Linked DNA regions of Homo sapiens: region 1 is linked to region 2. The links come from fine-mapping of genetic effects on gene expression. A gene starts in region 2. The other region holds a variant in brackets. All regions are shown on one strand. Distances are from middle to middle.

Evidence for each region. PIP is the estimated chance that this variant, and not a neighbour inherited with it, causes the effect. A credible set is the group of variants that fine-mapping cannot tell apart.
Region 1: its variant is the best candidate, but not a certain one, in a credible set for the expression of KLHL21 in whole blood (TOPMed, PIP 0.65).

Annotation. Positions count from the first base shown.
Region 1 is chr1:6,754,471-6,759,838 of GRCh38, reverse strand. No RefSeq gene overlaps it. Among named protein-coding and RNA genes, the nearest start is that of CAMTA1-DT, 28 kb to the left of the region's middle. The variant G/T (reference allele first, on the strand shown) is at 2,869.
Region 2 is chr1:6,600,320-6,605,687 of GRCh38, reverse strand. KLHL21 (kelch like family member 21) reads left to right here and starts at 2,819. Exons shown (of 4, transcript NM_014851.4): 1 at 2,819-3,891. The coding sequence starts at 2,871. LOC107984913 (a long non-coding RNA gene) reads left to right here. Exons shown (of 2, transcript XR_001737882.3): 2 at 1,041-2,241. RefSeq lists silencers at 1,101-1,449, 2,414-2,803, 3,404-3,563, 3,744-3,823 and enhancers at 1,864-2,013, 2,054-2,213, 2,234-2,323, 4,084-4,133, 4,164-4,303.

The sequences.
Region 1 (5,368 bases), 150 kb before region 2:
CACCACGCCCAGCCTGTTCTTGCAATTTGAAGGAAAATGGCAATGGCCAGGAATTTCCTATGAGCAATGGGTGCTGAGTTAGCATTAACTTAGTATATCATATTTTATTTATGTTTTAGATACAAGGTCTCACTCTGTAGTCCAGGTTGGAATGCAATGAAACAATCATGGCTCACTGTAGCCTCGACCTCCTGGGCTCAGGTGATCCTCCCACCTCAGCCTCCCAAGTAGCTGAGATCACAGGCACGCGCCACCATGCCCAGCTAATTTTTTTTTTTTTTTTTTTTGAGACGGAGTCTCGCTCTGTTGCCCAGGCTGGAGTGCAGTGGTGCAATCTCGGCTCACTGCAAGCTCCACCTCCTGGGTTCACGCCATTCTCCTGCCTCAGCCTCCTGAGTAGCTGGGACTACAGGCGCCCGCCACCACGCCCGGCTAATTTTTTGTATTTTTAGTAGAGACGGGGTTTCACCGTGTTAGCCAGGATGGTCTCGATCTCCTGACCTCGTGATCCGCCTGCCTCGACCTCCCAAAGTGCTGGGATTGCAGGCGTGAGCCACCGTGCCCGGCCTTAATTTTTAAATTATTTGTAGAGACTCCAGGTCTCCTTGTATTGTCCAGGCTGGTCTCAAACTCCTGGGCTCAGGCGATCCTCCCACCTCAGCCTCTCAAGTAGCTAGGACTACAGGACTGCACCACCTGGATAATTTTTAAATTTTTTGGTGGATACAGGGTCTCCCTATGTTGTCCAGGCTGGTCTGGAACTCCTGACCACAAGCAATCCTCCCACACTGGTCTCTTAAAGTGCTGAGATAGTTGTAAGCCACCATGCCTGGCAGCAGATAATATTTTCTTACAGGCCTGATGAGACACGTCACCTGACTGTTTTCCAATTTCCAATGCCAGAAATCCTGGATGGGAAAGAGGAGCCACTTGCCCCAGTGAACATGCAGAGGCTGTGGCGAGAGCAGGGAGAGAATTCCCTCATTTTCTGTACTACTCCCCTGAGGCCCCTTTCTCTGGGTGAAAATGCCCCCCTGAGTTGCAATGACAGGCCCTGGGAAGGGGAAGAGAATTCCTCTGTGGGAACTCTCTGTCTTCTAGGGATAAACCGAGTCTGCTGCTGGACACAGGGAGGGGAGGGGAGGCTCGAATGTAAAGAGAAAAGACACTGTGGGCCGGAAGCGGTGGCTCAAGCCTGTAATCCCAGCACTTTGGGAGGCCGAGGCGGGAGGATTGCCTGAGCTCAGGAGTCTGCTACCAGCCTGGGCAACACGGTGAAACCCCGTCTCTACTAAAATACAAAAAAATTGGCCAGACGGGGCGGCGTGCGCCTGTAGTCCCAGCTACTCGGGAGGCTGAGGCAGGAGAATGGCGTGAACCCGGAAGGCGGAGCTTGCAGTGAGCCGAGATCGCGCCACTGCACTCCAGCCTGGCGACAGAGCCAGACTCCGTCTCAAAAAAAGAAAAAAGAAAAAAAAAGAAACGAGACTGTGCCCACATGGAGGCGCAATGACGGCGAGCCTAAGGTGGGAATACTCAGCTCTACACCACTCTCCCTGCACCTAGCACGTCCCCAGCAGCAGGCTTGGTGGGCACCCAAGGCCAGAGCCAGGACTGGGGGAGGCAAGCCAGGAAGCCAGGAAGCCAGGTACAGCGTCTCCAGAGGTTTCCACTCGAGGGTGCCCACCCTGCGTGTGCACAGCAGGAGAGTGAGCACCCCCTTACAGTCTGCACTGGAAGCACCTCGCTTGCCTCCCCTCATCCAAGCCTCCCCAAAGACACAATTAAACGCTACAGAGGATTATTTAACAAGATCTGGGATCCTCAGAGCCGTAAGGATGATGACGGGCTGAAGCCAGTATCGAGCCTAATTCTTCCAACCATTGCATAGTCAGCAGTAAACTATGCAAGAGGGAAAAGGAAATAGGCGAGGGAATTAGAGTTTGTTTCCAAATTCCTATTTGGCCGTCAGTATCATGGTATCAGCAGAAACTCCTTGGCTTCCTTCGTTCTTGTTTCCAGCCTTACTTTCCAATTTGGGAACATCCTAAGGAAGGCGCTGGACGAATGGCCGGGGCTAGGCTCTCTCTGGTCCTGCCACTGCCAATGGTACACGGTGGCGTTGGGCAAGTCGTGGCTTCTACGAGCTTTGTTTTCCTTATATAAAAATGTACATAAGGCCGGGTGCGGTGGCTCACGCCTGTAATCCTAGCACTTTGGGAGGCCAAGGCAGGCAGATCATGAGGTCAGGAGTTCGAGACCAGCCTGACCAACATGGTGAAACCCCATCTCTACTAAAAAAAAAAAGAAAGAAAAAATTACCTGTGCGTGGTGATGCGTGCCTGTAATCCCAGCTACTCAGGAGGTTGAGGCAGGAGAATCGCTTGAACCTGGGAGGTGGAGGTTGCAATGAGCCAAGATTGCACCACTGCACTGCAGCCTGGGCAAGAGAGCAAAACTCCATGTCAAAAAAAAAAAAAAAAAAAAGAAGAAGTCAGAACTCAAGGGGACTTGGCCCTGATGAGGAGTTTGGGTTTTATTATAAATGTAGCAGAAATCCATTTGTAGAAATTTTCAGCAGAGAACTCATATGATCTAAGCTTTTTGAGAGCCAGGACTGTGTTTCTTTTTCTTTTGTTTCTTTCTTTCTTTTTTATTTATTTATTTTTTTTGTTTGTTGAGATAGGCTCTTCCTCTGTTGCCCAGGCTGGAGTACAGTAGCATGATCTGGTTCACTGCAGTCTCAACCTCCCGGGCTCAAACAATCCTCCCACCTCAGCCTTCTGAGAAGCTGTGATTACAGGTGTGTGCCACATGCTCAGCTAATTAAAAAAAAAAATCTTGGTAGAGATGAGGTCTATCTATATT[G/T]CCCAAGATGGTCCTGAACTCCTGGGCTCAAGCAACCTTCCTGCCTCAGCTGCCCAAAGTGCTGGGATTGTAGGTGTGAGCCACCGTGCCCAGCCAGGACTCTCTTTCTTAATGTTTTCCAACCATTTATTGAACTGAATTGAATTTCACTCACTCTTCCAAGAATTAGCTGTCTGACCTTGGCCAAATCCCTTCACAGACAACTGTCCCACAGGGTCTTCTTTGCACTTAGTAGGCATTAGCCCAGTGTTTGTTGGATGGAGACCTGCAGCTGCCTCACTGTCATAGGAAGTGAGAGGATGACTCCACCCAGCTCCACCATTTGCATGAGTCTGTGACCTCAGACTGCTGAAATGATCATAGAGTTATCCATGCTTCTCCAAATGCTTGGTTCCAGGTGCCTTATTACAGCCCATTTGTCTCCAGAATGACCCAAACCCCTCCCTGGACCCTCGGCCACAAAGGGGAAATTAATAGTAACATAAAAAGTTAAGCAGGTGAGAGAACATTATCACTCTTGTCAACAATAAAATCTGCTGCTGATCTTCAGTTGTGAGGACAGGCACATCTATTATTTATAGAATACAGATTGTTAAATATTAAATACTTGAGCCTGGGATAGTGTGAAGGTAAAACCAGGAGTGTGAACTTGTCAAAATCGTAAAAATGGTAACTCTTTGCAAAGGTGAAGTGCACCTACATTTATTACTGCTTTTATTGCACTATAAATTAAGGGGGGGAGCCCATGATGTGTCAATTTCAAGTTCTTTTTTTTTTTTTTTTTTGGGACGGAGTCTCGCTCTGTCACCCAGGCTGGAGTGCAATGGCACGATCTAGGCTCACTGCAACCTCCACCTCCCAGGTTCAAGCAATTCTCCTGTCTCAGCCTCCCGAGTAGCTGGCACTACAGGCGCACGCCAACATGTCCGGCTAATTTTTGTATTTTTAGTAGAGACGGGGTTTCACCATATTGGTCAGGTTGGTCTCAAACTCCTGACATCAGGTGATCCACCCTCCTCGTTCTCCCAAAGTGCTGGGATTACAGGCGTGAGCCACCACACCCGGCTGTCAATTTCAAGTTCTAGGTGATAAGCATTATCGTTGGGATGGCATCTGTCTGTACCTAGCTCTGCTTTACAAACAGCTCCTAGCCGACTTGCCTAGAACTATGAACTATTTCATCTGGGAAGGTGGTAAGAGAGAGGATTTCTTCCTTATTTACCACGTGACAGAATGGCAGGCAAGTCAAACATTTGATGAACTGGTAATTTTTCTTGTAGTTACTTGCACATATGTCCAAAGGTTTGTGTTGATGAAGGCAAAAATACTTCTTAAAGATATTAAAAGTCCAGGCTGGGTTCAGTGGCTCACACCTGTAATCCTAGCACTTTGGGAGGCCGAGGTGGGTGGATCACCTGAGGTCAGGAGTTCAACACCATTCCGGCAACATAGCAAAACCCTCATCTCTGCTAAAAATACAAAAATTAGCGGGTGTGGCTGCGCATACCTGTAATCCCAGCTATCTGGGAGGCTGAGGCAGGAGAATGGCTTGAACCTAGGAGGCAGAGGTTGTAGTGAGCCAAGATCAAGCCTGGGCAACAGAGTGAGACTTTGTCTCCAAAACACAAAAAAAAAAACCTTGAAAGTTGCCAAACATCTTAATTTTTGTTTTTTTTTTTTTTGAGATTGGGTTTTGCTCTTGTTGCCCAGGCTGCTGGAGTGCAGTGGTGCGATCTTGGCTCACTGCAACCTCCACATCCCAGGTTCAAGCAATTCTCCTGCCCCAGCCTCCCGAGTAGCTGGGATTACAGGCACACACCACCCTGACTGGCGAATTTTTTGTATTTTTAGTAGAGACGGGGTTTCACCATGTTGGCCAGGCTGGTCTCGAACTCCTGACCTTGTGATCCACCCGCCTCAGCCTCCCAAAGTGCTGGGATTACAGGCGTGAGCCACCGCGCCTGGCCTCATCTTAATTTTTATATGATTTTGACATCCCTCAATTTACCCTAATTTATTTCTGCCCTGAATTTTTCATGCAAATTTAGAACTTAACCCACCACCATTTGCTTCATGACATGAAGTGAGATACCGTGAGATTTTTCAGTCTGCCCCTAAGGACTCATAGATGTAAGAACTTGATTTCTTGATTTACTGCTCATAATAAAATGATTTTTTCCCTTTTCTTACAAAGAAGATTTGCACATCCAATTTGTTTTTCCTTTTTAAAAAATGTGTTGAATTAAGCCAAAATCTTTCCAACGAAGCACCTGATTCAAACACAAATTCTGTCCCCTGGAATATGCAGCCTCATGTTTAATAAGCACCCAGCAGGGATTATGCATTAAATTATCTCCCTTAAAAACTTGTTGATAGATTTATCAATATTTGGATTAATTTTAATGTTAAAGAATTAAATCCTTAATGTTTCCACTTTAGGTAGGGAAAGAAAACTACAACTTAATTGTATAGCAATTTAACCTTGATTATCTTTTTTTCT
Region 2 (5,368 bases):
CTTAAATTGCTTAGGCAATGGCCATTTTTGTAATTTTAATTTTTTTTTTTTTGAGATGAAGTCTCACTCTGTCGCCCAGGCTGGAGTGCAGTAGCGTGATCTCAGCTCATTGTAACCTCCTCCTCCCGGGTTCAAGCTTGAAGTGTTTGAACCTGGAGGCAGAGGTTGCAGTGAGCTCAGATCGTGCCAGTGCACTACAGAGTGAGACTCCGTCTCAAAAAACAAACAACATGTCATCTAGGTGGTTATGTTCATTTTGTTTTTGCTTGCCTGCATTCTCTTTCTGTACTACACGTACATTATCTGTTAATGTTAATTTAAGTTCAAAGTAAAATTAAGAATTCATATCTTGAGAAAAGAAGTATTTCATTGATAACCGGGGCCTACCAGGCATGTGAAACCATGTATATATATAGATAATTCAACAAAGGAATGTGGTGAGAAAAGAAAGGAACCGATTTAGACCTATCAGCTGTGTTAGGAATTTTGAATAACCTACTAACCCAGGCATGCTATTTAGCTCTTTCTTTTTTTCAGGGGTGGGGCAGGCAGAGTGGGAGCAGTGGAACAATGACAGCTCACTGTCATCTGGGCTTATGTGATCTTCCCACTTCAGCCTCCCAAGTAGCTGAGACTAAAGGTGCATGCCACCACGCCTGGCCAATTTGAAAACTTTTTGTTGAGACAAAATATTGGGTCCCACTATGTTGCCCAGGCTGGTCTCAAACTCCTGGCCTCAAGAAATCTTGCCCCAGCCTCAGCCTCCGCGTAGCTGGGATTACAGGCGTGCGCCACAGCACCCAGCTAATTATAATTGTTTTATTTTTAGTAGAGACAGGGTTTCGCCATATTGGCCAGGCTGGTCTCGAACTCGCTACCTCAGGTGATCCACCCACCTCGGCCTCCCAAAGTGCTGGGATTACAGGCGTGAGCCACGGCGCCTGGCCGAAAATGTTAACTTAATAAATTTTTTTAGGCATATGAATACATATAAATCAATTTGGGTCATACAATGAGTAATCTGATTTTTCGCTTTATAGCTCAAACATCTTTCCATTTCAATAAATACATCATTATTCTTCAAGGCTACATAGTAAGACTGAAATATGATGTTTAAAAATCCCTGTTATTGGGAATACAGAAAAACCGTACTCAATCCTCAACTATGGAAACATTATTGATTTAATCACTGGACTTACGCAAGATGGGTAAGCTGACCCAGGGGACGGGAGTTCTTTTCCCTACAAACATTCCACTTCCTGGCTACTCAGCCTTTCTTGTCACAAAGCCTGTGCAAGGAAGCTATTGGCCCTGCTCCTGGGCCCAGGAATGCTGCCGCTGCCTTGAATAGCTGTGTGAACAGTCCTTCTATGGGCAACAGGCGGCCCGCCTGGGTACCTGAATGTTTTCTGATTTGGGCCTGTGCTGCCCATGCTCACCCTGAAATTCAGACCAGATGCATTCTTATGGCAAAATGACGTGAAACTCTTAAGTAGAAGAGAAAGCCTGCGGTTCTCATTTCAGAGGTGGAATAAAAACAAAATGTCTTCTGGAAACGCTACGCGGCCCTAGACCTCGCTGGAACCAGGAAATGATAGCCAGCTCCCATGCGCGTGGCCTGCTCTGGGACCCACGTGGGCGGGCGCCTTCCTCAGGAATGCGTTCTCAAAGGCCCACCGGTGTAGGGGGGCTGGAAAACAGCACAAACCCAAGTGTTCTCTGCAAAGCAGCAGTCCTGGTGGTGAAATAGGGGTCTTTTCTAAAACTGAGCAAAGCCTACCTTCCACTGAGGAAAAAATGGCCTCCAAGGGAGGGCTCTTTTTCCCCTACAAGTGACATTCAAAGTGGTGCTGTGTCTATCGGAACTAAAATAAGGGCGATTCCTTCTTTCACCATTCCCCACCGCAGTACAAGTGACGGCGGGACTGTGCTTAGTGGCGTCATCTAGTTTCAAGGCGGTCTCCTATCTGACTTTGAGCCCTCGCTCTTTATACCCAGTTACCCTCTCGTGGAGTCCGAGCAGCTGCTTCAGGGAGGCCCGGGAGCCCCTAGGGCGGGCAGCCCCGGAGCCTGCAGCTGCGACGCAGACTCGGAAACTACAACTGCGCGTGAAGCCGACTAAAGTTAACGCCTGTGTGATTGAGTCAGAAGCTCCTTCAGGAACACAGGAGTGGGGCCGACTCCTGGAATCCGGCCCCGGGTCGCTTATAAATGCGCCAAGAAAAAAACGTCACCGAAAAACTTTATACGCGTTCTTGCTTTGGTCCAGAATGGTAAAAAGCCTATCCTTTGAGTGTGTCCCGTGATGGGGTTAACTAGCAACCCTTGAAACTAGTGGAACTCAAAAGCAAAACAAAAAGCCATTGTACCCAGCCGCCCCGGGACCTGGGCCGGCGCCCTTGGGAAGTCTGGCGTGAAAGGAGGGGTGGCTTTGGTTTCAGGGCCGAGCTCGCCTCTCCCGGGTTGGGTTCAGCAGCCGGGCCGGGTGGGTCGTGGGCAACCCCGGGAGGCCCCCGGTCCCGGCGCGCGGCGAGGCCGCCCTCGGACCTGGCACTTGTCACTCGCTGTCCCCGGCCCGGGCGTCAGCGGGGAGACGCAGAAGGGCGGAGGGAGGGAGCCGGCCGCGGACAGCGGTGACTCAGCCTGCGGAGCCGGGGGCGGGCGCCGCGCGGGGGACAGGCGAGCCCGCGCTCGCGGGGGGCGGTGGCGCCCGGCACAGAGGGGTTAAGGGGGCGGTGCAGACGTCTCCCCGCCCATCCCGCCCCTCGAGAGCCGCGGCGCCCCGCCCTATTTATAGCAGCGGTGCCTAGCGCGCCGCGTCTCTCCGCAGGCCCCGGCCGCGGCGTCCTCGACAACCTATCGAAGGCGCCATGGAGCGACCGGCGCCCCTGGCCGTGCTTCCCTTCTCGGACCCCGCGCACGCCCTGAGCCTGCTGCGCGGCCTGAGCCAGCTGCGCGCCGAGCGCAAGTTCCTGGACGTGACCCTGGAGGCGGCGGGCGGGCGCGACTTCCCGGCGCACCGTGCGGTGCTGGCCGCCGCCAGCCCCTACTTCCGCGCCATGTTCGCGGGGCAGCTGCGCGAGAGCCGCGCCGAGCGGGTGCGCCTGCACGGAGTGCCTCCCGACATGCTGCAGCTGCTGCTGGACTTCAGCTACACGGGCCGCGTGGCGGTAAGCGGCGACAACGCTGAGCCGCTGCTGCGCGCCGCCGACCTGCTGCAGTTCCCGGCCGTGAAGGAGGCGTGCGGGGCCTTCCTGCAGCAGCAGCTCGACCTGGCCAACTGCCTGGACATGCAGGACTTCGCTGAGGCCTTCAGCTGCTCGGGACTGGCGAGCGCGGCGCAGCGGTTCATTCTGCGCCACGTGGGCGAGCTGGGCGCCGAGCAGCTGGAGCGGCTGCCACTGGCGCGCCTGCTGCGCTACCTGCGGGACGACGGGCTGTGTGTGCCCAAGGAGGAGGCCGCCTACCAGCTGGCGCTGCGCTGGGTCCGCGCTGACCCGCCGCGCCGCGCCGCGCACTGGCCGCAGCTGCTGGAGGCCGTGCGCCTGCCCTTCGTGCGCCGCTTCTACCTGTTGGCGCACGTCGAGGCCGAGCCGCTGGTGGCGCGCTGCCCACCCTGCCTGCGCCTGCTGCGCGAGGCGCGCGACTTCCAGGCGGCGCGCTACGACCGCCACGACCGCGGGCCCTGTCCCCGAATGCGTCCTCGCCCGTCCACCGGTCTCGCCGAGATCCTCGTGCTCGTGGGCGGCTGCGACCAGGACTGTGACGAGCTGGTCACTGTCGACTGCTACAACCCGCAGACGGGTCAGTGGCGCTACCTGGCCGAGTTCCCAGACCACCTGGGCGGAGGCTACAGCATCGTGGCGCTGGGCAATGACATCTACGTGACGGGTGAGTGGGCCAGGGGCTGGGCAGGCTCTCTGGGGTTGAACCTCGCCGGTACGGGAGCCCAGCTATTCGCGGGGGAAGCGCACAGAGCCTGGAATCCTAGGGGCGCACCTGAGTCCAAGCTGGGGCTCTGGTGACTACATGTCTCTGGGCGATACTTTTAACCTTGAAGAAGGGCCCCTTGTGTGAGCCGGGACAAGTAGCTGCTTGTGGGTCTCTGTGCCCCGTGCGGCCGGGGCTGCCAGGCTGAGCCAACTCCGTGCCCAGGAGGTGCCTCCCCACTTGGTTGGAAGATACTGGGGCATTCACCCCGCACAATGGGTGCTTTCTTTTTCTCCTTAAGGAATCCAGGGACGGGCAGGAGGCCGACGCCCGGTGAGGCATCTGTTCCCCACAAGCCGGGGAATTTCTCCCTCCCTGCTGAGCCACACCGGGCCCCCTGACTCACTCTTTGTCACCCGGTGACAAGGTTCCCTTGGGCTTGCACCTAGGCTCTGTGCTCTGGTCACATGGTGTTTAGGCTGAACTCCCCGGAGCCTGTAAACATGGTCACATGTTAAGAGGTTTTCTTCCAGTTACTTGGCCCAAACCCCAAAACACTGCCGAGTCATGGTAGGCGGGTCCCAGTCCGCCTGAGTTTGGGCTTCTACGGTTTTTATTAAAGATAAATCCCAGTTCAAACACGAGGCTACCTCCTTTGTCGGGGTGAGGAAGGGCGGTCTCTGTGACTGCTATATAAGGAAAGAACCCACCAGGCAGGCGTGTGAGGCGGTTATCAGGCAAGGAGGTGGGGACTGGGATGTCACAGCTGCTGTGCCCAGCCTTGCATGTTCGCGAGAGAGCCCACTCTGGGACGTGCTCCGAGTTCCAGTGGGGCTCTGAGGTGTCAGGTGGGACAGTTGCTGGATTCTGTTGCCACAGCTTCCTTAGCCTGCTGCTCTGAGTCCAGCCTCTGCTGGGTTCTGCCAGAATCTGTGCCTCTTTCCAATCCAAGGTTGTCCCCAAGTTGATTGGGGACCGTGTCCCTCCCCTCTTCTGAAAGTCTGACCAGTGGCTTTGAGCAGATAATTTCTTCCCAGAACTGGCCACACTGGCCCCAGCTTTCTGCACACCCTTCCATAAATGTCCCAGCAGAGCAGTTAATCCCTTGGGTTTAGGCAGGTGGCTGGTTCATTCCTTTCAGCTGCCTTTCACACAGCTCCATGGAAGGGAGGAGGCCGGCAGAGCTCACTTCCTAAGAACAAGAACTTGCTTTTCTCCCTTTAGAGCTCAGGGCTGTGAAACAGAATGTCTTGTCCGCTCTGTCCTGTGGCGCCAGCCTGGGAGGCCAAGGGGTACAGCCCCCAGGATGCTTGGGGTCCCTTCATGTCCTGGGGTTTCTAATAGACCTGGTGTAATTTACGATTACAGCCAGTACCACTTTTTATTCTTAGCTTTTTATTGAAATTGAAAATACGGGCCGGGTGCAGTGGCTCTTTGT